2 separate regions of the Homo sapiens genome follow, and region 1 is linked to region 2. Evidence: fine-mapped expression QTL. A gene starts in region 2. The other region holds a variant in brackets. All regions are shown on one strand. Distances are from middle to middle.

What was found. PIP is the estimated chance that this variant, and not a neighbour inherited with it, causes the effect.
Region 1: its variant is fine-mapped to the expression of ANO7 in tibial nerve (GTEx, PIP 0.96).

The regions. Positions count from the first base shown.
Region 1 is chr2:241,207,767-241,223,137 of GRCh38, reverse strand. ANO7 (anoctamin 7) reads right to left here. Exons shown (of 25, transcript NM_001370694.2): 12 at 13,710-13,853; 13 at 13,503-13,640; 14 at 12,745-12,843; 15 at 12,568-12,670; 16 at 10,933-11,044; 17 at 10,512-10,566; 18 at 8,236-8,333; 19 at 6,900-7,045; 20 at 5,247-5,452; 21 at 4,757-4,899. Among named protein-coding and RNA genes, the nearest start is that of ANO7, 27 kb to the right of the region's middle. RefSeq lists enhancers at 4,102-4,201, 6,309-6,840, 9,479-10,038 and a silencer at 5,545-5,674. The variant T/G (reference allele first, on the strand shown) is at 5,369.
Region 2 is chr2:241,179,550-241,194,920 of GRCh38, reverse strand. ANO7 (anoctamin 7) reads right to left here and starts at 6,244. Exons shown (of 25, transcript NM_001370694.2): 1 at 6,155-6,244; 2 at 4,750-4,864; 3 at 3,670-3,727. The coding sequence starts at 4,857. It overlaps LOC105373971 (a long non-coding RNA gene), which reads left to right and starts at 6,499. Exons shown (of 3, transcript XR_924064.3): 1 at 6,499-6,645; 2 at 8,813-8,957. PPP1R7 (protein phosphatase 1 regulatory subunit 7) reads right to left here. Exons shown (of 10, transcript NM_002712.3): 10 at 11,269-12,274. The coding sequence ends at 12,098. RefSeq lists enhancers at 3,671-4,171, 4,172-4,672, 5,606-6,289, 6,290-6,974, 8,170-8,692.

The DNA.
Region 1 (15,371 bases), 28 kb before region 2:
CTGGGCAGGTGCCTCTGGAATTAGCCTATCTCCCCTTTTTCCACCATTTCGCTCTCTCATCCCATGTTCCTGGCCTGGCTCTTCATCGAGGGTGCCTGAAATGGGAATTCTTCCCAAACAGGATACTCTGACAATACCTTTAACTGGTGGGTTCCAAAGGTGGATGTGCTGGGTTGTCCCCCATTGGGCTAAACTGGACCCTCCCCACCCCCCAGGTGGCAGATGCTTTATTTTCTAGTAGATGTGACAGTCCAGTACGTCTGTGCTTCTACGGATGACTTCAGTCTACTTACACGGTGAAAATCCGCCGATTGCTGACCTCTGTGAGATCAGCAGTTCACCTGCTCAGAGACTGTCCCTGTCCAGCAGAGCCCTCCCTCCCTATCATAAGCTACATTCAGCTTCACTTGCTATTTCAGACTTTGACATCTTCCTGTGTCTCTGTCCCATGGTAAAGATGTGACATTCCATTTTCTAATATAAAGTTACATGTTGCACTCCATGAAAACTATTACCAGGGTCAACTTTGTAGGAAAATAAAAAAAACAAAAAACCAAATATTGCAAGTTAAAAATATAGCCATTGGAAAAAAAATCCCTCAAATGAATGGAATAAACTTTTAAGTGGCCAGACACAGCAGAAGAGAGACTGGGGACTGGGAGACAGTGACGACGAGACCACCCTGCGGCAACACAGAGAGCACACTTGGGGGGAAGCAGGCCACAGCCCAGTGGGAGTTCCAGACGACAATGGACAAGCAGAGAAGCACTGCTGGAAGGAGTAAGATGGAGACATTTCCAGAACTAAACAAAGACGTAACTCTTTCAGCCGGGCGCGGTGGCTCATGCCTGTAATCCCAGCACTTTATTTATTTATTTATTTATTTATTTATTTATTTATTTATGAGACAGAGTCTCGCTCTGTTGCCCAGGCTGGAGTGCAGTGGCGTGATCTTCGCTTACTGCAACCTCCGCCTCCTGGGTTCAAGCGATTCTCCTGCCTCAGCCTCCTGAGTAGCTGGGACTACAGGCCCGTGCCACAATGCCCAGCTAATTTTTTGTATTTTTAGTCAAGACGGGGTTTCACCGTGTTAGCCAGGATGGTCTCAATCTTCTGACTTTGTGATCCACCGGCCTCGGCCTCCCACAGTGCTGGGAATACAGGCATGAGCCCCCGCGCCCGGCCATCCCAGTGCTTTAGAAGGCTGAGACAGGTGGATCACTTGAGGTCAGGAGTTCGAAACTAGCCTGGCCAACATGGTGAAACCTCCGTCTCTACTAAAAATATAAAAGAGTAGCTGGGCATGGTGGCAGGCACCTGTAATCCCAGCTACTCAGGAGGCTGAGGCAGGAGAATCGCTTGAACCTGGGAGGTGGAGGTTGCAGTGAGCCAAAATCATGCCACTGCACTCCAGCCTTGGCGACAAGAGGAAAACTCCATCTCAAAAGAAAAAAAAGAAATAATCCCTTCCCTAGGCCAAGTGCAGTGGCTCAACACTTTGGGAGGCTGAAGTGGGCAGATACCTGAGGTTCGGAGTTTGAGACCAGCCTGGCCAACATGGTGAAACCTTTGTCTCTACTAAAAATACAAAAAAAAAAAAATCATCTGGGTGTGGTAGCGCACGCCTGTAATCCCAGCTACTTGGCAGGCTGATGCACAAGAACCCAGGAGGCGGGGGTTGCAGTGAGCCCAGATCACACCACTGTACTCCAGCCTGGGTGACAGAGCAAGACTCTGTCCCAAAGAAAAAAGAGAATAGGACGGGCGTGAAAGGTGGCTCAGGCCTGTAATCCCAGCACTTTGGGAGGCCGAGGCAGGCGGATCACCTGAGGTCAGGAGTTCAAGACCAGCTTTGCCCACATGGTGAAACCTCATCTCTACTAAATATACAAAAATTAGCTGGGCATGGTGGTGGGCGCCTGTAATCCCAGCTACTTGTGAGGCTGAGGCAGGAGAATCGCTTGAACCCGGGAGGCGGAGGTTGCGTGCAGTGAGCCAAGATCGCGCCATTGCACTCCAGCCTGGGCAACAGAGCAAGACTCCGTCTCAAAAAAATAATAATAAAATAAAATAAATAAAAAAATAAAAATATCATTTTCTTTGATTTGTTTCACCAGCAGGCATCTGTAAAGGTAGTGCTTTTTTCTTTTTTTCTTTTTTTTTTCCTGAGACAGCGTCTCATTCTGTTGCCCAGGCTGGAGTGCAGTGGCGCCATCTCGGCTCACTGCAACCTCCGCCTCCCGAGTTGAAATGATCCTCCTGCCCCAGCCTCCAGAGCAGCTGAGATTACAGGCGTGAACTGCCACAGCCAGGTTTTGTTTGTTGTTCTTGTTTTTCTGAGACGGAGCCTTGCTCTGTTGCCCAGGCTGGAGTGCAGTGGCACAATCTCGGCTCACTGAAAGCTCTGCCTCCTGGATTCACGCCATTCTCCCGCCTCAGCCTCCCGAGTAGCTGGGACTACAGGCGTCCAGCACCACGCCCAGCTAATTTTTGTATTTTTAGTAGAGATGGGGTTTCACGGTGTTAACCAGGATGGTCTTGGCCTCCCAAAGTGCTGGGAACATAGGCATGAGCCACTGTGTGCAGCCTTTTTTTGTATTTTTAACAGGGATGGAGTTTCACCATGTTGGTCAGGCTGGTCTCGAACTCCTGACCTCAAATGATCCACCTGCCTCGGCCTCCCAAAGTGCTGGGATTATAAGCATGAGGTACCATGCCCAGCCAGAAAAATTCTTAAATGCTATGAATGCTTCCAATCAGAAAAGCCAAGTCACAAAAGAATAATATTTCCAAAGAACTGAGAGAAAATAACTCGACCTATACTTTTATATCCGCTATTTGAAGGACAAAAATGCATGGCAATATTATCATACATATGCGTGATACATATTTCTATGCATACATATGTGTATGCATTTCTGCATGTGAAGACCCCACTAACCACATACCTTTACTGAAAGAATTACTAAAGGATATACTTCAGCAAGAAAAAAAAGACTCGGAGAAGGCAATACATAAGAAATTACTGTAACCACAGAAGTTAACAAAATACACAAATAAATTTGATGAACAGATGACTGAAAATGTTTTTTCATGTGTGTTTTTAACAGTAAAACTAAAACTCCATGTAACAATAATAAGATGGAGAGATTGCTGCTTACTAGGTGGTAAGGCATGTGAAGATCCTAGTCATACACAGAGAGAGGAAACAAAACTGAGTTCATTCAGGCTTTGTTAGGATAATATATAGTTTAGAACGTGTGCTAGCCGGGTGTGGTGGCTTGTGCCTGTAATCCCAGTGCTTTGGGAGGCCAGGGCATTGCTTGAGGCCAGGAGTTTGAGACTAGCCTGAGTAACATAACATAGTAAGACCCCATCTCTTTAAAGAAAAAAAAAAAAAAAAAAAGCCAGGCCTGGTGGCACACGCCTGTAGTTCTGGCTTCTCGGGAAGCTGAGGTGGGAGGATTGCTTGAGCCCAGGAAGTCTAGGGTGCAGTGAGCTATAATTGTGGCAGTGCATTCTAGAATGGGATACAGAGCAAGACCCAGTCTCTAAAAAAAAAGAAAAAAGAAAAGAATGTATGCTAAACATATGAGTAACCCCTAAAATAATAGAAATATATGCCATCGGTTCCAAATAAGCAAAAGAATAATAATAAAAAAAACAACCAGAACACTTTTACCCATCCACCAGAAGTCAGGAGAGGAGGAATAAAAAAGATAAAGAATAAAAGGAAAAAGTAAGTATCCATTATGAAGAGATCACAAGTATGAATTCGTACACAACTAAAAAGCTCAAAATACATAGAGCAAAAGCAAAACCTGAGAGAGACCGATATGAAAAGACTGATAACCCTATGGTTTCGTAATTTTACTGCTGAGATTTGCTCCAACATTAGGAGACTATGATGCTTTTCAAGTTTATTGAAACACATGCAAAACTTCATTGTAACCAGATCACAAAGGAAGTCTCCACAACTGCGGGTGAAGTACATCTACCTGCTCTGCAGGTTCTATTATGGTATGAGGCCACCACTTCTCCTGTTGTCCTTCCCAGTTTCTCCCCAACCTCCCCTTTTCCCTAGTTTATAAGACAGGAGAAAAGGAAGAAAGCAAAAAGCTGGAAAGAAACAGAAGATAAATAGCTAGATGACCTTGGCGCCACCACCTGGCCCTGGCGGTTAAAATAACAATAATATTAACCCCTGACCAAAACTACTGGTGTTATGTGTGAATTCCAGACGCTGTATGAGAAAGCACCGTAAAACTTTTTGTACCGTTAGCTGATGTATGTAGCCCACAGTCACGTTCCTCACGCTTACTTGATCTATTATGACTCTTTCACGTAGACCCTTAGAGTTGTAAGCCCTTCAAAGGGCTAAGAATTTCTTTTTCGGCGAGCTCCGCTCTGAAGACACGAGTCTGCCGACGCCCCCGGCCGAATAAAAAAACCTCTTCCTTCTTTAATCCGGTGTCTGAGGAGTTCTGTCTGCGACTCGTCCTGCTACACTATGACCAACTAGCAATTCACCTAGAATCCACGATTTGCCCTCCAGCCCCGCAAAGCTCCGTCCCTTACCGCGGGGAACCTCCCCCCAGCCCCTGCCCACGGCGCCCCCAGCTCCCCCCCTCCCCCGGCCTTGCCCGGCGGCGCCCGCCCCTCCCGGCTCCCCACCGCCGCACCCCCACCCCACCCGAGCCCCGCTCCGCCTCGTCCTCGTGCGCCCGCGGCCCCCTCCACCTGGCGCGGGGCTCACCTGCACGTGCGGTTGTGCGCGGCGGCGAAGGAGGACGGGGCTCGCGCCAGCGTGAAGTTGAGGAAGCCGCGCAGGTCGTGGGCGCGGGTCCACCGGTAGTAGGCGCGCGGCAGGAAGTCGGACGAGAAGGCCAGGAGGAAGGCCTGGGCGCCGGAGGGGTCAGCGCGAGGCGGCCCCCGCTCCGCCCCTGCGCGCCCCCGCTCCGCCCCTGCGCGCCCCCGCTGCCCCCCCGCCCCGCCCCTGCGCGCCCCCGCTCCGCCCCTGCGCGCCCCCGCTGCCCCCCCCGCCCCGCCCCTGCGCGCCCCCGCTGCCCCCCGCCCCTGCCCGCCCCCGCCGCCCCCCCGCCCCGCCCCTACGAGCCCCCGATGCCCCCAGCCCCGCCCCTGCGCGCCCCCGCTGCCCCCGGCCCGCCCCTGCGCGCCCCCGCTGCCCCCCCCGCCCCCGCCCCTGCGCGCCCCCGCCCCGCCCCGCGCTCCCGCCCGGGCCTCACGTTGCTGATGACCGCCAGGTGCGTGAGGCCCGCCAGGATGTGGAACCAGATGCCGATGTCCTGGGCGCGCTCGGCCACCGGGCGCCGGTACTCGCAGACGAACTTGCGCGCGTCCAAGCGGA[T/G]CTCCACCCAGTTGTTGAGCAGGGCGAAGAGCGGCGCGAGCGGACAGGCGGCCACGAAGATGGTGACGAAGCCGAACTGCAGCACTGCGGGGAGGGGGTCACGGCCGGGCTCTCCGCCACCGTCCGCCCTCAGCCCTCGGAACGCGCCCCCCGCGGAGGACCGGCCAGTCCACGTGGTGCCGCCACCCCATCGCGGCTCATTCCGCCCCCACCTCCTGGTCTCCCTCGTCCTGGACCGCGCAGCGCCAGGGCCGCCTCTCCTGACCGGCCTCAGGCCGGCTGTCCTGCCCTGCGCTCCGTGCTTCTGGCTGGTCACGGGCCTTCTCCGGCTCGGTGAGCTCAGGAACTAACTCAGGGCAGGCGTTGGGGCAGAAACCTGCTCCTGATTTTACAACCAGCTTCTCCAGTCACCCCACAGGGGAGCTGTTAGGAGAGGGCTCTTTGGAAGGGGCTTCTGGGTCTTCGCCGAGAATTACTAGTGAGATCATTGGGGTCCAGGGTTCAGTGGAGGAGGGTCAGGGCGTCCACTCCTCGCCCTGGGAACTGGCCTGCTCCCTTTCCACAGATGCCGCGGCTACGCTGGGGAGCTCCGGGGCCTGCCGGCTCACATGCCCGCTTGCTAGGTTAAGAGCTGCCTGCCGGGCACAGTTTCTCACGCCTGTAATCCCCAGCACTTTGGGAGGCTGAGGCAGGTGGATCACCTGAGGTCAGGAGTTCGAGACCAGCCTGGCCAACACGGTGAAACTCCGCCTCTACTAAAAATACAAAATTAGCCGGGCGTGGTGGTGGGCGCCTGTAATCCCAGCTACTCGGGAGGCTGAGGCAGGAGAATTGCTTGAACCTGGGAGGTGGAGGTTGGAGTGAGCCGAGATGGCGCCACTGCACTCCAGCCTGGGCGACAGAGGGAGACTCCGTCTCAAAAAACAAAACAAAAACAAACAAACAAACTGCCTGATGATTCCTTCTCCCTTTTGTCAGCTCAGAGTCAGACCCTGCACTGCAGGGACGGCACAGGTGATACAGACCCACCCTCCAGAGTGCACCACCCGTGCAGGCAGTGAGCCCCTGGCACTGGCCACCACCTGGTAAGGTGACAGTGGTAGGTCTGCAAATAGCGTGGGCATTGAGATTTCTGGGAACATTGGCTCTCCAGGCCGCTGCCTCCCACTGTGGCTTCACCCTTGGAGGACTTCTGTCAGCCCCCAGGGCCTGCTCTCCTAATTCTTCCCTTGCTCTGGCCCATGCTTTCTAGGTCCAGGGACCCCAGGGGAGCTCTGCAACGGCCGCGGGGGCCTCCTCCCCGTGCCGGTGCCCCTCTGTCCTCAGCCAACCCTCTTGGGCACTCTCAGGGGAAAAGAATTCCTTTCTGGATTCTCCACAGGCCCGACCCTCTGTTCCCACCCCACCCCCACAGCACATTTCAGGGCAGATGCAGACACAGGAATGTCAGGCTGGGAGGCCCTTGAGCAGAGTGGCCACCCATCCCTGCCCACGGCGCCAGCCATTGCCGCAGCTGCTAACGGGCTCCTACCCATTTCCAGGTACTCGTCAAACAGACCCTCACAGGGCACAAGCTCATAGTCGTCCTCCCAGGGCCCCTGGCTAGCCCCTGCAGAAGCTCCCGCCTTCCTCTTCTTGGAGCGAAGCCGGAACTTCTGCCACCAGCCCTTTAGCTTCCTGGGGACGGGAATACAGGAAAATGGCCTTTGATCCAACATGGGTCTCAGTGGCTGCTATAGTCCTTGGGGGAGATGTGGCCGGGACAAGCCTGTTGCTTTGCAATTGAAGGGCAGCAGGGAGGGATGGGGTCTGGGGCTGAGGGGTGGACGCAGTGAGAGCCAACAGCTTTGCAGATCGGACTCAGTGAAAGCGTCTGTGTCTGTTGGTCAGATGTGGGAGGGCAGTCCACCCGCCCAGCCCCCCGCATTGTTCCTTAAGGCTTTAGGGGTAATGGGCTCCTCCCGGAATTGCAAAGCAGTGCCAAGAGCTCTGCCAAGGTTGGGAGGGAGTGGACGAGGACGACTGTGGTGTCCCAGGGAAAGCAGATGTGGAGGCCCACGTGTTGGGTTCGTCCTACACAGGGGCATGTGTGCATGTTGCCTTATCACACTGTCACTCATCCGTGCCCTGCTCCTGCCAGGCACAGAGCTCCACCCTGCACCTTATGGTCTTGTGGTTTCACAGCACCAATAGTTCCAAGAGGCAGGGCCATCTCTCGGGATGTGGCATGGCCACCATCTCCCAACTGCTATTCCTGGTGGCCCAGAAATGTCAGTGCTGATTTGGGAGCTGCCTTCTGGGGGCAGATCAGGTGTTCAGGGGGCGCTGGGAGGGCGTTCAGGTCAGTCTGGCCTTGAGCGGGAGGCGAGGCCCTGGGCAGCCTCTTTGAAGGACTCTGGCTATGGGAGCCTTGTGGTCAGGGTGTCCCTGGCAGGGGCATCTGAGGCAGACGTGTGTCTGAGGATCAACCCTGGGACCTCCTTTTCCTCCTCCCTCTTGTGCTGCGTTGGGGCCTGGGGATGCCAAGGAATACTCTGGCCCAGCCGCAGCATCTCTGAACGGACAGAGCCATCACCCCAGCCTTGGGTCCAGGAGCCCAGACCCCCTCCCCAGCCAAAGCTGGTCCCAGGGGTAGCGTCTCCCACAACTACAACCCAGAAGACCTCAGCCAGCCACAGGGCAGCTGCAGGGCGGGCAGCCCAGAGCCCGGGGCAGACGGCCGGGCACACTCCCCCTCCCCCTCCCCAGGCAAGGTGCCTTCCCTTCACCTCTTCTCCCAGCTAGGGCCGGGCTGGAGGCTGCTACTGCCAGGTGCTCTGGGGTCCCTCGGTCCTTGGATGCCACCCAGGGAGGAGTGGGGGACTCACGGGATGAGGACCTCCTGCATGTTGTTGATGACCTGCTTGCCCACCATGATGACCAGGAGCTCCTGTGCCAGCTCGATCAGGCAGCCTCCAGCCGCGCACTACGGCAGCAGGGCTCAGGTTAGCTGGGAGAGGGGGACCAGCCACTCACCCACGCATCCCTTCTTGTCTCAAAGCTGGCCCTCATCCCGGCCCCCACCTCCCTCCTGACATGCCTTGGGCACCTGGAGGGTTGCAGAGATGCTCCCACCATAACACTCCCTCCCGACCTCACAGGAGCCCCCAGGTCCAGCTGGAAGACTGCATTGGAAAGCTGCAGGGGGCACTGCTATATGTACCTAATGGCACCCCAGTTTTCCTTTGGAGACCCACAAGGGGTTACATGGGGCTGACTGTAGCCTCTGGCTTCAAGACAGACCCACGAGGCAGGCCCCACCAATCGGTGACCCAGTTCGAGCCAGTGGGAGGTGGAGTTCCTGGGAACACGTGCCTTGCAAGGGGTGCTAAGTCCGAGAGTGTCGGCCGCACTGCAGGGCACCTTCCCTCCAGATGGGGATAATCTTTCTGAGAACACAGGCAATGCTGGGAATAGCAGTGCAGCATTTTTAACACCTGGATCATTCATACCTAAGCCCGCGTAGCCCTGAGCGTTTTCAGTACAGGAGCCAAGAAAACTCCCTGCAGCCTCCACCTCCTGGGTTCAAGCAATTCTTCTGCCTCAGCCTCCCGAGTAGCTGAGACTACAGGTGCGTGCCATCACGCCTGGCCAATTTTTGCATTTTTAGTAGAGACGGGATTTCACCATATTGGCCAGGCTATTCTCGAACTCCTGACCTCATGATCCACCTGCCTTGGCCTCCCAAAGTGCTGGGATTACAGGCATGAGCCACCACGCCTGGCCGAAAACTCCCTTTTTCGTTTAAGCCAGTTTGAGTTGGGAACTTTTCCCACTTAACAATTGAGAGCCCTCTGGCTGGTCCGTTGTGGCACCCGCAGCCACACTCCCCACTCCATCCCCAGCCTTCCCTTTCCCCTCTCACATGAAATGGACACCACCCCTTTGGGGGCAGCCACTTTGCAGTTGGGCTGGCTCATGGCCCAGACCCCATGCGAAGTTTCTCTCCTCCTCCTCCTCTTCCAAAAGGAGAAGAGGTCTTTCAGGCCAGGGGTCACTCAGCAGGGGTCCACTTAGGTCCCAGCCCAGCCCAGAGGCCACCTGTGGATGGCTCCAGATGCACCCACCCTGCTGCCTGCGACCCCAGCTGCTGGGACATGCCTGGCCCTCACCCAGGAGGGGCTGTGCGTCGGGAACAGTTTTGAGGGCTTCTCTACGGTGTCTTGGAGGGGCTGTGGCACAGTGGAGACTACTTCTGGGGTGATGCACACGTCAGTTACTTGCACCAGAATCTCTGTCTTGGGGTCTGCTTTGCAGGGACCCCCGTGACAACAACGCTTCATCCTCCACCAGGTGAACTTCCATTTGCTTTCTGAAAAACCAGGTTCACGCCTGGCTCTCAGAGATACGGAGTAGCTAAGGCTCTTAGAGATACAGTCACAGGCAGAGCCCACTGTGCTGATGGGGAGAGGACAGCTGGCCACAGGGAGATCCCTGACAGCCATGGCGGCAGCACGCCAAGCCTGTGAGGAGGCCAGCCCCTGCGACCCCTGTGTGCCATGAGGAGGCCAGCCCCTGCGGGCCGTGTGCCATGAGGAGGCCAGCCCCTGCGGGCCTGTGTGCCATGAGGAGGCCAGCCCCTGCGGGCCGTGTGCCATGAGGAGGCCAGCCTCTGCGGGCCTGTGTGCCAGAGGCTCTGCGCCCACCGTAATGGCTCACACTTTTCTCAGGTGTGAATTGGGTTAAAATGGGGAAAGAGTAATACGGGCTGGGACAGCTGGGGTGGGGTAGGGTTTTTGGTTTGCTTTTTTATTAATTTTTGTGGCGATGAGGACTCACTATGTTGTCCAAGCTGGTCTCGTACTCTTGGGCTTAAGCGATCCTCCTCCCTCAGCCTCCCTAAGTGCTGAGATTACAGGCGTGAGCCACTGTGCCCGGCCTGGAGTGTTTTGGTGTGGTTCTGAATGGGGCATATCGGGGGTCAGAATAAGTGGTGAAGAGAGGCTGGGAGCCCTGAGTGGTCAGCTGCACAGCTGGCCCTGGCTGGGCGATGGAAATAGCCGGTGGTGGGAGGAATTGCTGCAAATCAAAGCTCGAATGGAAGAATGGAAGTGAGAGGAAGCACACAGCTCATCCCCCAGTCCCGGGCCTCAGGCACACTCACCTCCTCATTGCGGACTCCAAACAAGGTGTGGTAGTTGCCTGGGTATCCCACAAACCTAGGAGAAAGTCAAGATCATGAGCCTTGATGGGATCCTTCCTGTCTCCTCCCACTTCCCTGGGCTCTGGAGGCCTCAGCAGAGCTGCTGCACCTGCCCTGGAGGAAGCACGAACTGTGGCGTAGAGTCCCGGTTGTGAGCTGGGCCTCCTGTGGACCCCCGAGCTGGGTAGGGACCAAGAGGTGGGCAGCCCCTGTTTGCTCAGAGGTGCCAGGAGGCATGGGCCCCTGTCCCCTGCCTGGGTCTCCGGTTCCGTCCTCCACCTGCCTGAGCACGGCTGGATGACGCCTGGTACCCAGGCAGCGGGAAACATGAGCAGAACTAAGCCGGGACAAGCTGTGGCCAGAGGGAGAGGTGCCCACCAACCTGCCCTTGAAGAAGGCAATGTAGACGGGTGAGGAGTAGAAGTTGACGAACTGGAAGATGAACACCTTGAGGGTGAAGGCGTCCTCGAACTTGGTCTGGGTGCGGTGCATTTCTGTGGCATGGAGAGCCTGGGCTCAGTCCCTGGGGGAGTCACCAGCATCCAACTAGGGGCCCCCTCTCCTAGGACCACCTTGCCACACACGGGTGAGGAAAAGGCCATATCATCCAGATATTTAAAAGAAGGAGACAAAGTGTGACATTTCCGAAGTCACCCAAAAACATGTTGATTAACAGGAGTTGGGAAAATTGATAATACCCTATATCCCAACACTAATAATGAATGTGGTGCACACGGGTGAGTGGTCAGGGGATGGGTCAGAGAAACAGAATAGAGGCTCGGTGCCAAGGCTGCGCAGCGGACTGGGCTCCGGTGCAGGTGCCGGAGGCAGGAGCATCAAAGGCTGAAGGTTACAGGAGGGAAAGAGGGAGGCTCAACACCCCACAGCAACCCCACAGTTGCAGAAACAAATGGGTGGCTCCCCTCAGAGCCCTACCCTTGGCCATCCAGAACCAGGAACCTCTCCCTGAGACACCTGCCACCTGCAAAGGTCTTTCCCTGACACCCACCTTCCCCTGGCCACCCACCAGGAGGCACTTCCTCCTCAGCACTTAAGCCCTCTCCCATTCTCTGTAGCTGTGCAGGCAGCCAGTTCTGTCCCCTCTCCTAGAACCTGGGCTCCAGGGTGGGGCTGCCAGCTTTTGTTCAAGACTATTCACCCCCAGGGCTAGAGCAGGGCTAGTGAGAGGCAGCAGCTTATGGAATGAATAGGTTGGTCGTAAGTGTTTGTCCTCAGGAAATGAGACAGAGAAAAAGACCGATGGGAGAGGAAGGGGGAGGGAAGAACTGAGAGGTGGCTGCCCAGCCCAGCAGCCGATACCCCACACCACCCAACAGAGGCTCAGCGGCCCTATCCTAGAGGGACATCTCCCACCTGGGGGACCTTGCAGCCTGGAGGGGGGCCCTGTGGAGGGGTGAGAACTCTTTGGGTGCTGGAGTGCCCCCAGGGTCTTTTATCTCCAGGAAGGCCCTGCTCACTGCTCTTTTAAGGGGGCCTCTGGGGAGGCTCAGACAACTCCAATCTGTACCACATTTAGAAATAGGGAGCACTGGCTTCCTAACCCAGGGATTGTTTGTGTCCCACCTGGGGTGCCAAAAACAAAAAATAAGAGAAAGAAAACCAGGTGCTGTGGCTCATGCCTGTAATCCCAGCACTTTGAGAGGCCTAGGCAGGAGGATCCCTTGAGGCCAGGAGCTCGAGACCAGCCTGAGCCACACAGTGAGACCCCTGTCTCTATCAAAAAAAAAAAAAATTTCAGCTGGGCACAGTGGTCCAGGTACTGAGGAGGCTGAGGCAGGAGGATCCCTTGAGCCTGGGAGGTCAAGGCTACAGTGAGCCATGATCGTGCCAGTGCACTCCAGCTTGGGCAACAGAGTGAGATCCTGTCTCAAAAGAAAAAAGAAGAAAGAAATAGAAATGAGGGCCATGTGTGTCAGTGAGTGAGAAAGTCACGTTCTGGCTGGCGGCCGGCAGGGTGGGCCCCTGGTCAGTGCCTGGCCGGCCTCAGCCCACTCACCCCATCGTGTCAGGACGTGGGCCAGGGATACATAGATCTTGGAGAGGATGAGGATGAAGACGAGGTTCACTACAGACCCCGTGAGGCTGGCGATGCGAGAGGCCTAACGGGAGACAGGCCGTCAGAGCCGGATGAGGGGCCGCTCAGGGCCCCCCGAGGCAGGCAGCAGAGGCTCACCCAGGCTGCGAGAAGGGTGTTGCCCGACCTGGACACCACGATGGCCATGATGGCACGGTACAGGATGATAGACACGAGGCACATGACCACCACGGCCACCTGCGGGGGCAGGGAGGCCCGTGAGACCCTTCACGGTGTCTTGGGCACCCCAGCACCCTCAGGCCATGGCCCCCGACAGCTCTTCTAGTCCACTGCTGGCCCCAGCACTGCCACCTCTAGGAAGGCCCCTGCCTCCAGCCCCGGCTGTGCTCCCAGGCTATGTCCTTCCTGATGAGTTGCTCAGGCAGAGGTGGGGTGGGGTTAGAGTTAGAGGCTGGGCCACATCTGGGTGTCAAGGCAGCCACTGTGAGTGTTGGAGAGCCATCCCATCCCAGGAATTGGGGATTCCTGACATCTTGGCAGGGGAGTGAGAGGTCCTATTAGGAAGCCCCTTTGGCTGGAAGGCAAGACAGGGTGCAGTGAATGGCCCTGCTGGGGTGCCCGCCTCTCTTTTCCTTGAAACCAACCCCCTTGCTTGAAAAATGCCCCATGCCCGCACCCACGGGGAGACCCTCCCAGGCCCTCCGTATGACTCACACCTGCTCTCAGCCGGGACCCCACGGCCGAGCCCGGGCACATGGGGGCCTCTCTGCGGGGAGTGAGGGTTCTGTGCCCAGAGGAGGCATCTGGCCACGGCACCAAGGTGAGATGGGGGACAAAACCACCCCACATGGTGCAGGAGGATGGAGGCGTGAGCGGAGGGCAGGGGGACCGCATACCATCACCACGATCACCACAGAGCCGGCCAGCATGCGGCGCGCGCGGCTCCTCTCAGGGAAGTAGGGCTCGTCCTCACCCGTGATGGGGTTCGGGGCTGTCATGGGGGCTGAGGCGGCAAACTGGGGCCGAGGCCTCTCCTGGAAGGGAGCCGGTGCTCAGTGGCGGCCCTCGCCGGGTGTGACCGTGGTCCAGCGGGGGTGGCTCACCTCAGTGTCCTCGTAGTCAGAGCAGTCCCAGCGGTAGGCCAGCGTGGCGCTCTTCCGCTTCCAGTACTCCAGCAGCAGCACGGCCCACAGTGCCATGAACAAGCTGAAGAACACGGTGCCGCCGTGGTCGAACAGCCGGCCGGCCTGTGGCAGGGAGCGGGGGCGTCCAGACTTGCTTGGGACTGGAGGCCCCTTGTTCCTTCCAGTGTTCCTTCCTCCTGGAATGGGAGTGTGCATCCCACACACATCCCCCGACTGTGTATTTTTTGTTTGTTTGCTTGAGACGGAGTCTGGCTCTGTCACCCAGGCTGGAGTGCAGTGGCGCGATCTCGGCTCACTGCACGCTTCGCCTCCCGGGTTCACGCCATTCTCCTGCCTCAGCCTCCCAAGTAGCTGGGACTACAGGCGCCCGCCACCACGCCCGGCTAAATTTTTGTATTTTTAGTAGAGACGAGGTTTCACCGTGTTAGCCAGGATGGTCTCGATCTTCTGACCTTGTGATCCACCCGCCTTGGCCTCCCAAAGTGCTGGGATTACAGGCGTGAGCCACCGTGCCCAGCCCCCTGACTGTGTTTTGGAAGCACAGACCCACAGAGGGAGAGGAATTTTGCCTCAGGACGGCTCACACCCAGGTCTCACCCACACCTGACTTTGAGGATGCGATTTGGGACTTTCTGAGCTGATATTTTCATGAGGTTTTGGACCTAGAGTTAATGCTGTAAGAGGTTGAGACTTTGGAGGATGCTGGGATGAGGTGAGTGTATTTTGCACGTGGGATGGACATGAAGTTTTGGAACCAGAGGATGACCTGTAGTGAGTTGAATTCTGGCCCCCAAAAGATATGTTCGTTGGGAACCTCAGAATGTAATCTTATTTGAATAAGGGCCTTTGTAGATGTAAGGTAAGGATCTCCAGATGAGAGTACTCTGGACAAACCCTTACAAGAGGGGAGAAGAGGAACCAGCACGCAGACACAGAAGGGAAGGCCAGGTGGAGATGGAAGCAGAGATTGGAATGAGGCGGCCACAAGCCAGGGAGGACCAAGGACTGCCAGCAGCACCAGAAACCAGGAGAGAGGCCTGGGGCTGAGTCCCCAGAAGTGGCCAAGCCTGCCAACAGCTTGATTCTGGACTCTGGCCCCGGGCCTGTGAGAATAAGCTTCTGCTGTTTTAAGTCCCCATTTGTGGTCCTAGGAAACATCCAAGTGGATTCCCAGAAGTGAGGTCAAACGGCGTCTGGCCCACCAGTAGTGCCAAGGGCTCTGGGTCCAGTGCATGTGGGGTACAAGCGAGGCCCTGAGGCCCCTGGGAAGGTGGACAGACCCAGGAAGCATGCCAGGCGGGAGGGGGGACAGTGGGGCTCAGAGACTGCAGGAGCCTCCCGCCCAGGTCTTGTAAGTTGGGAATTCTGCTCAAAACCTTTGGTTTTGCCTGTGCCCTGGGGTCTCCAGGGTTTGTCCGCCTTGGAGCCAAGGGCCAGGTGCCCCCAGAGTGCCAGAGCTAGAGTCCTGGTGTGGGGTGTCCTCAAGTGGGAAGCACTAACATGGGCCACTCTGCCAAGTGCTGGGAGGTGTGTGCCGGGTGTAACCCCAGTTCCAGGCAAGAGAACAAAGGTTAAGGAGCTCATGGAGCGTTCTGCCTTTAGCTGGTGACAAGCAGGACA
Region 2 (15,371 bases):
GGCCACACCCGAGGAGTAAGGACAACGGAGTCCCCTTAACTGCAGGGGATCTATCCAAGAACCCGGTGGATGCCTGAAACTGTGCAGAGTAACAAACCTATATATACTGTCTTTCCCTATACATACCTATAATACGTACATACCTATGATATACATTCCTATGGTGAAGGTTAATTTATGAATTAGGTAAAGTAAGAGATGAACAATAACTAATAATAAAACAGAATAATTATAACAAAATGCTGCAGTAAAAGTTATGTGAATGTGGGCATTCTGTCTCGCTCTTTTACAATATCTTATTGTGGCTGGGTTTGGTGGCTCACGCCTGTCATCCCAGCAATTTGGGAGGCTGAGGCAGGTGGATCACGAGGTCAGGAGATCAAGACCATCCTGGCTAACACGGTGAAACCCCATATCTACTAAAAATACAAAAACAAAATTAGCTGGGCGTGGTGGCCGGCACCTGTAGTCCCAGCTACTCAGGAGGCTGAGGCGGGAGAATGGTGTGAACCCAGGAGACGGAGCTTGCAGTGAGCTGAGATCACGCCACTGCACTCCAGCCTGGGCAACAGGGCAACAGAGCGAGACTCCATCTCAAAAAAAAAAAAAAAAGGAAATAAATAATTTCTATATACCTATGACACATAGGCAGTGAAATTTTCCAAGTAATGCTATTTGGAATACATCTACTAAAAGATGTGCAAGATCTCACGAAAGCAGCAAAAAAAAAAAAAAAAAAAATTAAAGGCCAGGTACGGTGGCTCACGCCTGTAATCCCAGCACTTTGGGAGGCCGAGGCAGGCAGATCACTTGAAGTCAGGAGTTCGAGACCAGCCTGGCCAACATGGCGAAACCCTGTCTCTACTAAAAATACAAAATTAGCCAGGCGTGGTGGCACATGCCTGTAATCCCAGCTACTTGGGAGGCTGAGGCCAGAGATCACTTGAACCTGGGAGGTGGAGGTTGCAGTGAGCCAAGATCGTGCCCTTGCATTCCAGATGGGCAACAAGAGCGAAACTCTGTCTCAAAAAGAAAAAAAGAAAGAAAGAAAAGAGAAATTAAAGTAGACCTAAATAAATGGAGAAAATACCATATTTGAGGATTGAAAGACTCACTTTCTAAATATGGGAAATAATACATCAGGCATACGTTAATCCCTTTGACACAAAACAGAACACACAAAACTGACAAAACTTTAACAATACCAGGCCAAATGGATTTTAAGACACAAAGCATGATTATGGATAGACAATTTTCTAGGCACAATTAATATTGATAAAAGGCATGATTTTCTCAGAGGATAGAATATATTCTACCTTTATATGAAAGTTTAAAACGATTGTATCTTGGGAGGTGCTGTCTTGGAATGAAGGGTGGGGAGCTTCTGGTAGCAGGAGATGTGGTCTGAGGGCCTGGTGGGGCTGGGAGGGAGGGGTAGGCCTGTGGCTGCACAGGCAGCTGCGAGGATGCCTTAAGCCTCACACACACAGAGGGGGCGTGTGGAGGATTTTGAGAAAATAAGGGCTGTCTACGTTTTAAAAAACCATCTTAGGCTGGGCGTGGCGGCTCACACTTATAATCCCAGCACTTTTGGAGGCCAAGGCGGGCGGATCACCTGAGGTCAGGAGTTCAAGACCTGCCCAACCAACATGGCGAAACCCCGTCTCTACTACAAACACAAAAATTAACCGGGCGTGGTGGGGCGCACCTGTAGTCCCAGCTACTCGGGAGGCTGAGGCAGGAGAATGGTGCGAAGGGAGGCAGAGGTTGCAGTGAGCCGAGATTGTGCCACTGCATTCCAGCCTGGGTGAGAGTGAGACTCCATCTCAAAAAAAACACAAAAAACAAAAAACAAAAAACCAACCAACCAAACAAAAAACCATCTTAACCACATTTAAGTGTACAGGTCATTGGTACTAAGGACATTGACATTCTTGTGCAGCCATGACCACCATCCATCTCCACTGAATCCCTACGCCCATTAAGCACTAACTCCCCCTCCCCGTCCCCAGCCCCTGGCACCCACCATTCTACCTTCTCTCTCTATGAATTTGACTCTCTGGGGACCTCATATAAGTGGAATCACATTTGTCCTTTTGTGACTGGCTGATTTCACGTAGCATACTGTCCACAAGGCGCATCCCCGTTGCAGCCTGTGTCAGACTTTTCTGCCTTTTTAAGGCTGAATAAATCCGTTGGATGTAAATACCACATTTTGCTTATCTAGTCATCTGTAGGTGGACACGTGGATGGCTTCCACCTTGATATGGGCTGAACTAAGTTTCTCCAAAATTTGTATGTCAAAGCCCCACCCCACAGTCCTCAGAATGAAACTGTATTTGGAGATTAGGTCATTAAAGACACGTGATGGCTATTAGGGTGTGCCCTAATCCATGACAACTCGTGTCCTTATAGGAGGAAGAGACCCCGGGGGTGTGAGGACACAGGGAGAAGGCGCGTCTGCAAAAGCCAAAAGAGAGGCCTCTAAGCCACCAGCCCTGCCTCACCCTCACCTCGGGCTTCAGCCCCAAGACTGTGAGAAAAGAAAGTTCTGCCATCTAAGCCCCGCAGGCCGTGGTACTTTTTTTTTTCTTGGAGATGGAGTTTTGCTCTTGCTGCCCAGGCTGGAGTGCAATGGCGCGACCTCGGTTCACCGCTACCTCCGCCTTTTGGGTTCAAGCGATTCTCCTGCCTCAGCCTCCCGAGTAGCTGGAATTACAGGCATGTGCCACCACGCCTGGCTAATTTTGTATTTTTAGTTTCTCCATGTTGATCAGGCTGGTCTCGAACTCCCGACCTCAGGTGATCCACCCGCCTTGGCCTCCCAAAGTGCTGGGATTACAGGCATGAGCCACTGTGCCTGGCCCAGGCTGTGGTACTTCTTATGACAGTCCCAGCAGACGAATGCACGCCTTCCAGCTACAGTGAATGACATTGCGGGTGTACAGATATCTCCCCGGGGCCCCCATCCCGTGCTCGTGGGCGCTCACCCAGGGAAGACATACTGGCTTTTACGGGAACTCTGTGCTGAATTCTCTGAGGAACTGCTGTTTTCCTTAGCAGCTGTACCATTTTACACTCCCTCCAGCAATGCACAAGTGAGCCAGTTTCCGCTCATCCTCATCAACACTTGTGATTTTTTTTAAGTAGTAGCCATCCTAGTGGGAGGAGGTTAGGGTCTCTCTGGTGCTGAGGGGACAGCAGGGTGGGCGGGGTGGGTGCTGGGAGCCCGGCTGGTGCTGGTGCAATCCCCTGGAGTCGGTGGTAGCTCCGGGCAGACAGAGGCAGTGGGTTGGGGGTGGATCAAAGAGATTTTGAAGGTACAAAAGGGGTGGAGTGCAAGAGATAAGAGTCAGAAATGACCTGAGTTGTGGCTGAACAGCTGGAGGATGGTGGAGGGGACTGGAGCAGGAGGGAGGGGGCAGCCCTGTCCACTCTCCAGAGCCCTTCCGGCCCCACCCCATCAGTAGGGAGCCCCCTTTCCTGCTGTTCTTCCCACTGTGGTTTGCTCACCCCGAGGCCCTCACCCCAGTGCCCCATCCCCAAGCAACTGGCCCCAGAGTGGCTACTGAGGAGGCTACCCCAGCCTGCTGCCCCTGGGGGCACCCCCGTGGTGTCCCCACCCTCAGGACCAACACGGGTGTGGTACAGGTGCTGGGAGGGGCTCACCGATCCGGGGCTTGGCAGGACTCCCAGCTCTGCAGGCGGCCGCTTGCTGTCCACCTGGCTGGAAGGCATGGAGGATGGAGAAGCATATCAGCATCAGCATCTGCCCTCGACAACTACACCCACCCCGCCCCACCCTGAAGCCGTCCTCGCCTCCAACCCGTCCCCGCCCTGCCCCAGAACACTCAGGACCACAGAAGAATGTTCGGCGGGTGGGTAGGGGGTGGAGGGGGAAGCCCCTCTGCTGTGTGGGGGCACAGGATGCGCAGGCGCGGGGAGCGGCAGGCAGGGCCAGAGGGCACCACCAGCCCTGGGCCTCCAGCCGGCTCCCCTCCTCCTTGGGCCAGGCCCATGGCAAGGGTCAGGTTGGCGGGAAGCATGGCCAGGACCAGGGGTGCCTGCCTTGCTGGCCTCCAGGGGCAGAGGGGAGCCGGACTGCTCCCAAAGGGGCCCTGAGGACAGAGTTGGCCATGGCGACCGAGAGTGTCTGGATGCTTGAGGTGAGAGGCCCTGTGCCCTCCCTGGAGGCTCATCTCAGCTGTGCTTGGGGCGGCAGGAAGGGGTCCCGTGTCCACCCGCAGGCTGCTGGGGCAGACGTGTGGCCCAGGAGAACCAGGAAGAGGGCCCTCCACGGCCAGGGCCTCCCGCATGGCCTTGAAGGCCCGGGACCCAGCCTCTCCCCACAGGCTCACAGCGCATCCATGGCCTCCTAGTGACAAGGTGGAGCCCTACAGATGGCCCTGGGTGCTGCTGTGGCCCTGCACTGACTGGGACTGACACCACAGGGAGGGCCCCGCCCTGGTCTTGCCTTTGCCTGGCCAGGCCCCCCTTACCCTCCTGGAGCTCCTGTCTGAACATCAGTGGGTTCTGCTCGGTTCTCCACAGCCAGGCCAGGCCAGGAGAGCGGTGATCTGACTGTGTGTGTTGAGGACTGGGTGGCGAGGGCTTGGGGGTTGCCGGGGGATGCAGGAGAAACACGGTGATGCCCATCCACCCCCAGAGGCTCTGGGCCCAGGGTGGGGGCATAGACCCAGGCAGGGGAGGACCTCTCAAGTCGCACCACAGTCTCCTGGGTGCTGTTACCTCCGAGGCGTGGGCTGTGCTCCCGTAAGAGCCCCTCTTCTCTGCCTCAGGGGGGCTCACATCGATCAGGACGGTGCTGTCCTCTTCCTGGGCCCGTCGCCGCAGCATCCTGCTCCTGCACCCAGCAAGGCCGGGTGGGGATGGGGGTCAGAGAGGGGATGGGTGAGACCCGTTCCTGGGGCCACCACACTGCCTGCAGTGAGCTCACTTTACAGACTCGACTCGGAGTAGAATGGGGCTGGGCTGGCTCGGCAGACTCTCCTGGCCATGAGCACATGGAGAACCCCCTAGCCAGCCACGAGCTCCAGGAAGAAACCAGTGCCGGGGCGGGAGCGTCTGGCAGGCCTGGCACAGCAGGCGTCTGTCTGTCCATCCAGTGAGTGCCCGTGTCCCCCAGCCCTGAATGCCGTCCACTCTGCCTGGGTACTCAGTGGAGCCTGAGAAGGCCCAGAAAGGTGGGCCTGGAGTACAGACACCTCTCCCTCTCTTATCCGTAGGGTGGAGCCATGTGAGCCAGGGACAGGAAACCCCTCAAGTCGCCTGCCTTCGCTCATGGCCTGAGGACCCAGTGCCAGGACCCATAGGCCCTGAGCTCCCCAGCAAGGCGGGCCTGATGGAGCCCGGCCTCACAACTCTTGGGGGTCCCAGCTTCCTCCCGCACCTTCGCCCCGGGGGTCTCTCTCTGTGGGAGGACAGGTGCCGTGGCTCCTAGTCTTGGGCTGGCAAAACGGGGCCAGGAGCACGACATCTGTGGCCCTGGAAGGAGAGGGTTCGAGCTGGGGCTGGCATTTGGAGCTGCGACGATGACCGGAGGGTGTGACCATGGAGGCGCCGCAGGAGGTCGGAGGGGCAGCCTTCTAGTTCTACCCTTCACTTCACATTAGCGGAGGCCCAGAGGGACAGAGACTGAGCCTGGGCCGCCTGCACCTGCCTAACCCTGAAGCCCGAGCCAGGTCTCAGTGTTAGGACTCGGCCCCGGCCCCAGGCTGGGAGCCTCACTACGGACTGTGGGGTGTTCCTGGAGGAAAGTCCCCGAGGAGTTTCGGCCACCCAGCAGCCCCTCATGCCCCCATCCTTCTGTGGTGGGCAGGCGGGCCCCTCCTCAGAGCTCTCTGCAGAAAGAATGGGGATGCCCCCCACCCCAACGAAGGGACCTGCTCCATGGGGGAGCCCCTGGGCAGGCAGGAAGCCAACCCCAGCTGGGTGTACCCCGTCCAGAGCCGCACTGAGTGTGTGTCCCTCCTCGTGCCCCAAGGGGCTTTGGGGACCAGGGCGGGCCCTGGCACTGCCTCCCCACAGGCCAGGGTGTGTGAAAGTCCCGGTGGGCTGGGGTGCCGCCCTGCCTCCCTAGAGTCCAACGCTCCACCTTCTCCCTGTGGCCCACACGTCTAGGCTGGGTCCCCACCTGGCACAGTGGCTTCCGGAAGAGGTCTCGGAGGTCATGGCCCACCTCTCAGCGTGAGCCTGGTCTCGGCAGTAGAGTCCCGTCCTCACTGCGGGACAGAGGGTGGGGAGGGGTGGCCCTTGGAGCCCCGCCCAGGCAGTGGCAGCCATTCGCATGCCCTCACCTTGCCTGCAAGTGGGCCAGGAAGCAGGCAGGGGAGGTGCCCAGCACAGCTGGCCAGGGCAAGGCTTCCCGGCTCCTGGAGCAGGATCTATCTTTGTTTAAATAGGGGGTGTGGGGCTCAGAGCTGCAGACAGAGGCAGCCCACTTGGCTGGGCTTTCACACACCCGCATGCAAATGCTGCCGTCCTCCTGGGAACCTTATTTGCTTAGAGATTTCAGGGCTGGCATCAGCTGTCATAGTTGCTGCCTTGGAGGGTCTCGAGGAGGTGGGATTCCACAGGAACAGCCACAAGTGCCACCTCTGCTGGAAGCCTTGCCAGGCAGACCTCGTAAGCTCTGTTTATGTGGGGGGAAACTGAGGCTCCTTGAGGTTACGTAGCATGTGCTGAGTGGTGGGCCAGGGTTTCACCCGGGGGCTGGGGAGATTGGGAGACCCAGATCACACTGCTGGCTCTGCTAATGCCTGAGGGGTGACCTCAGGCACATCCCATGCTCAGGGCCCCATCTGCAAAAGGACAGGAGGGGTCCTAGCCTTCCTCCCATCCTTTCCGCCCTCCTCCTCGTCCTCATTCTCCTCCTAGCCCTCCTCTTTCTCCTCCTAGCCCTCCTCCCCCTCCTCCTTTCTCCCCCTCCTCCTATCCTTTCTCCCCACCTTCCCTCTCCTCCTTCTCCTCCTATTGTTTCTCCCCCCTACTCCTCCCTCTCCTTCTCCTCCTATCCGTTCTCCCCTCTCCCTCTCCTCCTATCATTTCTCCCCCCAACTCCTCCTCCTCCTCCTCTTTCTCCCCACTCCCCCTCCTCCTATCGTTTCTCCCCCTCCCCCCCACTTCTCCCTCTCCTCTTCCTTCTCCTCCTTTCTCCCCACTCCCCTCCTCCTGTTTCTCCCCCTCCCCCCACTTCTCCCTCTCCTCCTCCTTCTCCTCCTATCCTTTCTCCCCGCCCCTCCTCTTCCCCTCTCCCTCCCCCTCCCCCTTTCCTCCTTGGTGCCTGGCAGTGTCTGAGAACCTACCACCCGTGCTCCTCGCCCTCCATGCACAACTGCACTGGGGAGCCCCAAGCTCAGCTTGCTGTTCCAGGTGCCCCCTTCTGCCTGTTGAAATCCCTCCAGGCGGACCCTCATCCTGGCTGCAGCTTTCCCTTATACCTATGCCCCTCTGTGCTTGGCACCTCCCAAGGGGCCCTGTTCTTGGACCTGTGTTGTGCCTCGGAACAGCGGGAAGGCCCTGCAGGCCGGGTTCCCTGTCAGCACCAGCAGAGCCTGGGCGGCAGGACCTTGGGGCCCTGGGCCTCAGGGCATCTGCATGAGAGGTCTCTGCTTGGCCAAGCTCAGCCTGCAGGCGCCTGAGGTGGATCCCTGGACGAGGGCTGGACTGGGGAAGTGCTCCAGAAACCAGGAAAGGAGTCGGGAGGCAGGAGGGGAGGGAGGATGAGCGGGGCACCATCTCCCCAAGACCTGTGGAGGGTGGCCTCAGCCTGCCATGGGCACTCTGCAGGGGAGGCAAGACGAAGCGTTTCCTCACCTGGATGCAACTGTAGGCTCTTACTCTGCTCAGTCATTGGCCAAGGACCCTCCCAGGAAGACATGCCACCTCCCAGGAGCTCCTGGCTCTCTGCTCTTGGTGACAAAGTGGCTCTGGTGGCCTCAGGGCTGTCTACTCAAGAGCTTCAGGGCCGGCTGCTGGAGGTGACCACACCCCAGTGGGAGCCCTTTCAGCGACAGTGCACGCACAACACCTAAAGGGGGTTCGGCCCTGAGGAGTGTCTTTCCATTTTTACTTCATACAACTCTGTTTGGGTGGGTGGTTTTTTCAAGTTGTGTTACTTCTGAGGGAAAGGAAGGAAGGGAGGGAGGGAGAAAAGCCGCAACCAGCACAGGGGGCCCGCCAGGTTCCAGGCCTTGGGAAGAGCCCAGGCCCAGAATCTGCTGCACCATCTTTCTTTGGCTGTAACATTTTTTTTTTTGAGACGGAGTCTCGCTCTGTCGCCCAGGCTGGAGTGCAATGGCGCCATCTCGGCTCACTGCAAGCTCTGCCTCCCGGGTTCATGCCATTCTCCTGGCTCAGCCTCCGGAGTAGCTGGGACTACAGGCGCCCGCCACCACGCCCGGCTAATTTTTTATATTTTTAGTAGAGACGGGGTTTCACCTTGTTAGCCAGGATGGTCTTGATCTCCTGACCTCGTGATCCGCCCGCCTCGGCCTCCCAAAGTGCTGGGATTCCAGGCGTGAGCCACCGTGCCCGGCTGGCTGTAACATTTATGGACATACTTAGGGTGTAGTTAGTGGAGGTGGAAGTGGTGGTGAAGAGCCCACACTGAAGTTCAGCCTCTTTCTGAGGCTCCTTCTGAGGCTGGAGGCGCGTGCAGGGCTCCCTCCATGAGGACCCTGGCACTGCGCCCCAGCCACATGGGAGCCCTGCTGGACGGACGGTGGCTGGGTCGCAGGGGACAGACTCTTGGATGCCTGCACTGCCCGCTTTCTAACCTTCCTGTCTGCAGGTGCAGCCAGCAGCCCAGCTTCCTGTGAGCGGCGGCTCCACACAGGCCACTGGCCCCTGGTGTCTGAGTTGCCCACTCTGGCCCTTGGCCTGCGTTTCCGTCAGGATTCCTGTCTCCTTTATTTGATGTGTGGGAGTTCTAAATGGTAAGCCTTGCCAGTTTTAAAAGCTGCAAACGCCTTCTCTTAATCTACTGTTGCCATTATTCAGGTATTATTCATTATTTTTGTTCTATGTAAAATTTTATGTAAATAAACCCATCAAAATCTTGTCTTACAGTTGTGTTTGTGGAGTTTTTTTTTCGAGATAGAGTCTTGCTCTGTTGGCCAGGCTGGGGTGCAATGGCGCAATCTCAGCTCACTGCAACCTCCACCTCCTGGGTTCAAGCAATTCTCTTGCTTCAGCCTCCTCGAGTAGCTGGGATTACAGGTGCCTGCCACCATGCCCGGCTAATTTTTTGTATTTTTAGTAGAGACGGGGTTTCACTATGTTGGCCAGGCTGGTCTCGAACTCCTGACCTTGTGATCTGCCCACCTCGGCCTCCCAAAGTGCTGGGATTACAGGCATGAGCCACCGCACCCGGCCTTGGGGAGTTTTCTCTACTGCTAGCTCACATATCCGCCTTCCCACATTCTTTTTTCTTTTTTGGGGGTGTGAGACAGGGTCTCACTCTGTCGCCCAGGCTGGAGTGCTAGTGGCGAGATCTCAGTTCACTGCAACCTCTGCCTCCCGGGTTCAAGCGATTCTGCCACCTTAGCCTCCCGAGTAGCTGGGACTACAGGTGGCTGCCACCACGCCCGGCTAAGTTTTGTGTTTTTTTAAAGTAGAGATGGGTTTTCACCGTGTTACCCAGGCTGGTTTTGAACTCCTGAGGTCAAGCAATCCACTCGCCTTGACCTCCGAAAGTGCTACGATTACAGGCACGAGCCACCATGCCCAGTCTCCCACATTATTTTCTACTGATTTCCTATTTCACCACCGCCCATGAATCACCAATTGCTCTGGAGCCTATCCTGTGTGTGATGCCAGGGAGGGGCAGTGTTCATTTTTCCACATAGTGCACTCTGCCAACATCATGAGGACACTGTCCACCCCTCCCCGACCCCCGGACACTTTTCCCAGTCCCCGAGTCCCCTGGGTTCCTGCTGAGGTGTCCCTGTCTTGGTGCTGTTAGGTCAGGCCTCCCCCCACACTCTCACTGTGGGTTTGCAGCACTCAGGATCTGGTAGGAAAGCGTCTCTCCCAGCTCTTTTTCAAAATGAATTGAATCACAATGTTGACTTTTTTCTTCCATATACATTTTAGAATTTGTCGGGCACGGTAGCTCATGCCTATAATCCCAGCTTTTAGGAAGGCAGAGGTGGGAGGACAGCTTGAGCCTAGGAGTTTGAGACTTGCCTGGGCAATATAGCAAGACCCTGTTCGCCAAAAAAGGAAAAAGAAAAAGCCGGGCACGGTGGCTCACTCCTGTAATCCCAGCACTTTGGGAGGCAGAGGCAGGTGGATCATGAGGTCAAGAGATCAAGACCATCCTGGCCAACATGGTGAAACCCCGTCTCTTCTAAAAATATAAAAATTAGCTGGGTGTGGTGGCATGTGCCTGTAGTCCTACCTACTCAGGAGGCTGAGGCGGGAGAATCGCTTGAGCCCGGGACGCGGAGTTTGCAGTGAGCACAGATCGCGCCACTGCACTCCAGCCTAGCGACAGAGCGAGACTCTGTCTCAGAAAAAAAAGGAAAAAAAATTAAATTTTAGAATTTAATGTGTCTCAAAAAATCAAATGGTGGCTGGGTGCGGTGGCTCACCCCTGTAATTCCGGCATTTTGGGAGGCTGAGGTGGGCGAATCACCTGAGGTCAGGAGTTTGGGACCAGCCCGGCAACATGGCAAAACCCCATCTCTACTAAAAATACAAAAATCAGCTGGGTGTGGTGGCGGGTGCCTGTAATCCCAGCTACTAGGGAGGGTGAGGCAGGAGAATCGCTTGAACCTGGGAGGTGGTGGCTGCAGTGAGCTGAGATTGCGCCATTGCACTCCAGCCTGGGTGACAGAGAATGACTCCTTAAAAAAAAAAAAAATCAAATGGCATTTTGATTAGGATTGTGCTGGATTTAGCATACCTTTCCTCATCACTTCCACATTTTTTGTATGTTTGTAAAAATGTCTGTTAAAGAACAGATGGCTGGGTATTAATTTGGAGCCTTTTAAAACTTGAGACAGGGTCTCCCTCTGTCACCCAGGCTGGAGTGGGTACAATCATGGCTCACTGCAGCCTCGCCCACATTGGACAGTACGGTTCTAGAGTCCTGGTTCCTCAAGTAGACGGTTCTAGAGTCTAGAGTCCCGGAGGCAGAAGGGACCTTGGTGACCACATGATGTGGCCCTCATTCTGCAGGAGGAGAAATCTGAGACCCTGGGAGGTGACGATGCCCTGGTAGCATTAAATCCAGACTTCGGGTGTCTGTCAATGTACATTTTATATTAAAAAAGCCAAAATAACAATGGGGTGAGAACAGGAGGCCACTATACCAGTGGCCAAGAGTTCAGATCCTTGGAGGCCGTCTTTGGAGAGGCTCAATGGGACTCGTATTCTGGCAGCAGCACAGCACCGTGTGGGACACAGGACACCCTCCCCACACCTGAGCTTTCACCCACAGGCAAGGGATGTGGCGAGAACTGACGGGCACACGTGAAAACAGTCAGCCCTGCCCGGCGCTCTTTGAAGGAGAGCTCTAAGGAACACAAGCACACAGGGCTGAGTCAGCTTTTACCCAGCTTTTTTAACTTACCTAATTTTTAAAAAATTGAAAATGGCTGGGTTAAAAGACTAAAAAACCTCGGTTGTTGCAGGTCAAGACTGCCTGAACCCTGCACACCAGGACTAGGGCCAGCTAGGCCAGCCCCCGAATGCCACTCGGACAGCACGTGAATGCCTGTAAAGCACTCTCAGGCCCTGTGTTTCACACGACTCAGGTAGGGACTGTGACTGCCTTCTGAGAGAAGGAAACAGGGATTTCTAGCGAATGAACGCAACGTGTCTTATGTTCTCTCTGTGGCTACAATAACTGTCAACAATCACCCAGGAGGACAGTGTGGCAAGATTTAATTGCAACGGCATCTGAAAATGGTGTGTGACGTCGCGCGCGCCAGCTATCGTCAGTGCCTTTATTGCCATTGGGTTTGTGACTGTTGATATAGTGACGACCTCAGGAGCAACAGGTGGGTTAAAAACCCGTGGCTGGGCAGTTCTTCCGAGGAGAGGGACCACATGAGGAGCCAAGAAGGACTCAGAACCTGACGAACGTGGCATCGATCTGCCGCACGGAGGGGAGGGCGAGCATGACCTTCCGCCGGTACTGGGGGTCCTTCTGCAAGGGGTTCCGCTCCAGGTACACTGTCTCCAGGCTCCTGGCTCCCTTCAGCTCGTCGAGGTCGCTCCAGCTCTCAAGGAGATTGTCGTTCATCTGGGGACACACACAGCAGAAAAGCCTTTAGAACCAAACAGCCCAGCCCTCGACTCTGGTGGGGTCCACTAGCCACCCTCCTCCTTCCCACTCAGAAGATGGCGAGCAGGTGTGGGTCTTCCCTGGCACCTCATGGGACCTTCCATGGCCTCTTGGTGCATCCTGGCCACCTTCAGCTGCATCCCAAGTACAAGTTACCTGTCCATAGCCAACCCTGGGCCAGTCACTATGACGGGGCCAAGTCCACATTCAGGTCAGCAGAGGAAGGACAAAGCAGTTCTGGCCACCTGCCTGCTACACTTGTCCATAGGCAAGTGTCAAAGCAGGGTGGGCTGCACTTTCTACAAACCAGTTCTCAGCCATCATTCCCAAGGCTGCACTCTGCGCCATCACTGTGACACAGCAGACAGAGGCCGCTCTACTTAAAACTCTCAACTCTTCTGTAAATTACCTCTATGGCTCTCTCCACAAGGAAGTCCCAGCTGCTGCTTTCACCCAATACCAAGTGCAGGGACACAAATCGTGAGCAGGTGGGATTCAGAGGTCTGAGTTGCAGGCTACATTTTACCATCTTGGCCCTGCCATGCCCAGTTGGAGGGACCTGCCTTTGGCAGGAAGAGTTCTCTTGCATTTTTTTTTTTTTTGAGACAGAGTCTCGCTCTGTCGCCCAGGCTGGAGTGCAGTGGTGCCATCTCCAGAACAAGGGGAGCCAGTCCAGCTTCAAACCCTGTTGGTCTGACCCTCCCTTTCAAACACCCTGTGTGTAGAAATCACATGTTCAGAGCTGCCCGGCCTCAGGGCCTGCCAGGCAAACCGCGGTGGCAAGAGCACGGGCACTGCTCCTGAAGAGGCAGCTGGACTTGACTGTGAACCTACAATGGGCACAGGCAGGGGCACTCGTTATAGGGTGACAGACTTCGACTCCTTTTACAGGGAAGTTAGGAAGGGAACTGTCCATGTGGAACGGAAGGCAAGCAGGGGCGTTCTACTCTGGGGCCCACACTGCCCACTGCCCTGCCCACAGCTGTGGTCCGACTGGGGGGTCCCTGCATGGACTTCTGGACCTCTGCTCTGCACAGCTCCCCTTCTCTCTGGGGCCCTGTCTGGCACACTCTAGCTGCCAGAGATGTTGATCTCTGCCTCTTCCACTCAGAAGTACTGTGTTCTGCTTGGGAAACATCCCAGGTAAGGAGTGGGGTGATCACGGGGCTCGCGCTGGAACTCCCTCCTCAGAGCCTGCAGGTGCGTGCTGCCTGCTGTCCACTGCCTGAATAGAGTTGTTTCATATTTTTCTATCTGTCTGTGGCAGGAGGGCTAGTTTTGCACCAGGTCCACTGTCACAGCCAGGCTGTCTTTAGTAACTTACCGTGTGTCAGGGGCTTCCCAGAGAGGAATATAACGTGCATCTCACAGGTTTGCCTGTTTGAGGAACCCTATTTTCTTTTTTTTGAGAGGGAGTCTCGCTCTGTCGCCCAGGCTGGAGTGCAATGGGGCAATCTCTGCTCACTGCAACTTCCGCCTCCTGGGTTCAAGCGATTCTCCCACCTCAGCCTCCCAAGTAGCTGGGATTACAGGCACTCGCCATCATGCTCGGCTAATTTTTGTATTTTTGTAGAGATGGGGTTTCACCACGTTGGCCAGCCTGGTCTTGAACTCCTGACCTCAAGTGATCCACCCGCCTCAGCCTCCCAAAGTGCTGGGATTACAGGCGTGAGCCACTGCGCCTGGCCTGAGGGACCCTATTTTCACAGAACCTTTTGTGGGACTAGTGCGTACCAGCCTTGGGAAACCAAGAATTCCAAATCCTAGAGCTTAGCCCTTGAAGAGGGACTGACACCTGCTGGGAGGAGCTGCACCACCAGGGCTGGTGCCCTGCTGCTGCTGTCCCGACCAGTGCCTCCATGTGGACGGGACGTGAGCGTACCTTCTTAAATGCTACTCTGTTACTACACTCGCACCGCCCCGCTGGTTGTGTGGCCAGTGCAGAGCCTGCAACACTAGAATTACAGGGGAAGCCATCCACCTGCCAGGCCTGTGATTGGCCGGTCACTGGTCAGTTAACAGAAAGAGCCCCTTAAAGTGGAGAGTCACGAAAATGATGCACACACACGCCTTAAACCAAGCTTGTCCAACCCACGGCCTGCAGGCTGTAAATGGCCTAGGATGGCTTTGAATGAGGCCCAACGCAAATCTGTAAGCTTAAAAACATTTTGAGATTTTTTTGCGATTTTTTCACTTTTTTTTTTTTTTTTTTTTTTAGCTCACCAGCGATCGTTAGAGTATTTTATGTGTAGCCCAAGACAATTCTTCTTTTTTCCAGTGTGGCCCAGGGAAGCCCAAAGACTGAACACCACTGCCTTAACCACTTCTACCACAAAACACACAAAAAGGACATTCATTTAATGAAAGTAGCAATATCACACTGTTTGGAAGAAGTAAGATTTTCTTGTAGCATAGTCTATTTAAAAAATGATTCAAAACACCACTGGCAGTTGACTCAGGCTTTCAGCTCTGGCGTGGGAGGTCTTCAAGCTGTGTCACCTCCTTCTTTCTCGATATGTGATGTATTTGTGTTTGTCACACACCAGATGCTTCTTGTCTCACACATCACAGCATTTTCCAATGTCATTATTAGTCTAGATGGGCGGACCATCTTTATAAATTGCAGATGTTGTAATTTTCCATAGCACTGCCAATCTCAGAGCAGTTTTCTCCAGGACTTAGTAAACCTAACACGGGGAATTCTACTCACCACCAATGGTGCATTGTAAATAATGTGTAAATAATGTGTTTGATACTGGTAACTTTCAGAGATTCTTATCTTTGCATTTTTCCAAAATGGAACTAAAAACATTCACTTGTATGAGACTCTGTCTCCATAGACATTCCAGAGGCTCCTGAATCCCAGGATGGGGCAAAGATGTTACACTCATCATGGAAAAAAGATGACCTTATGTTTCTCTTATCAAGTTCTGCACACTGGGGCTGTCAGGGAGCCTGGCTGGGGAGCGCGGGCACATTCCTTTCCCCCAGAGGGACCACTTCAGTCTCTTCTAATCTTGAGCACCTCCCATGTCCTTCTCACACTGTTTTTTAA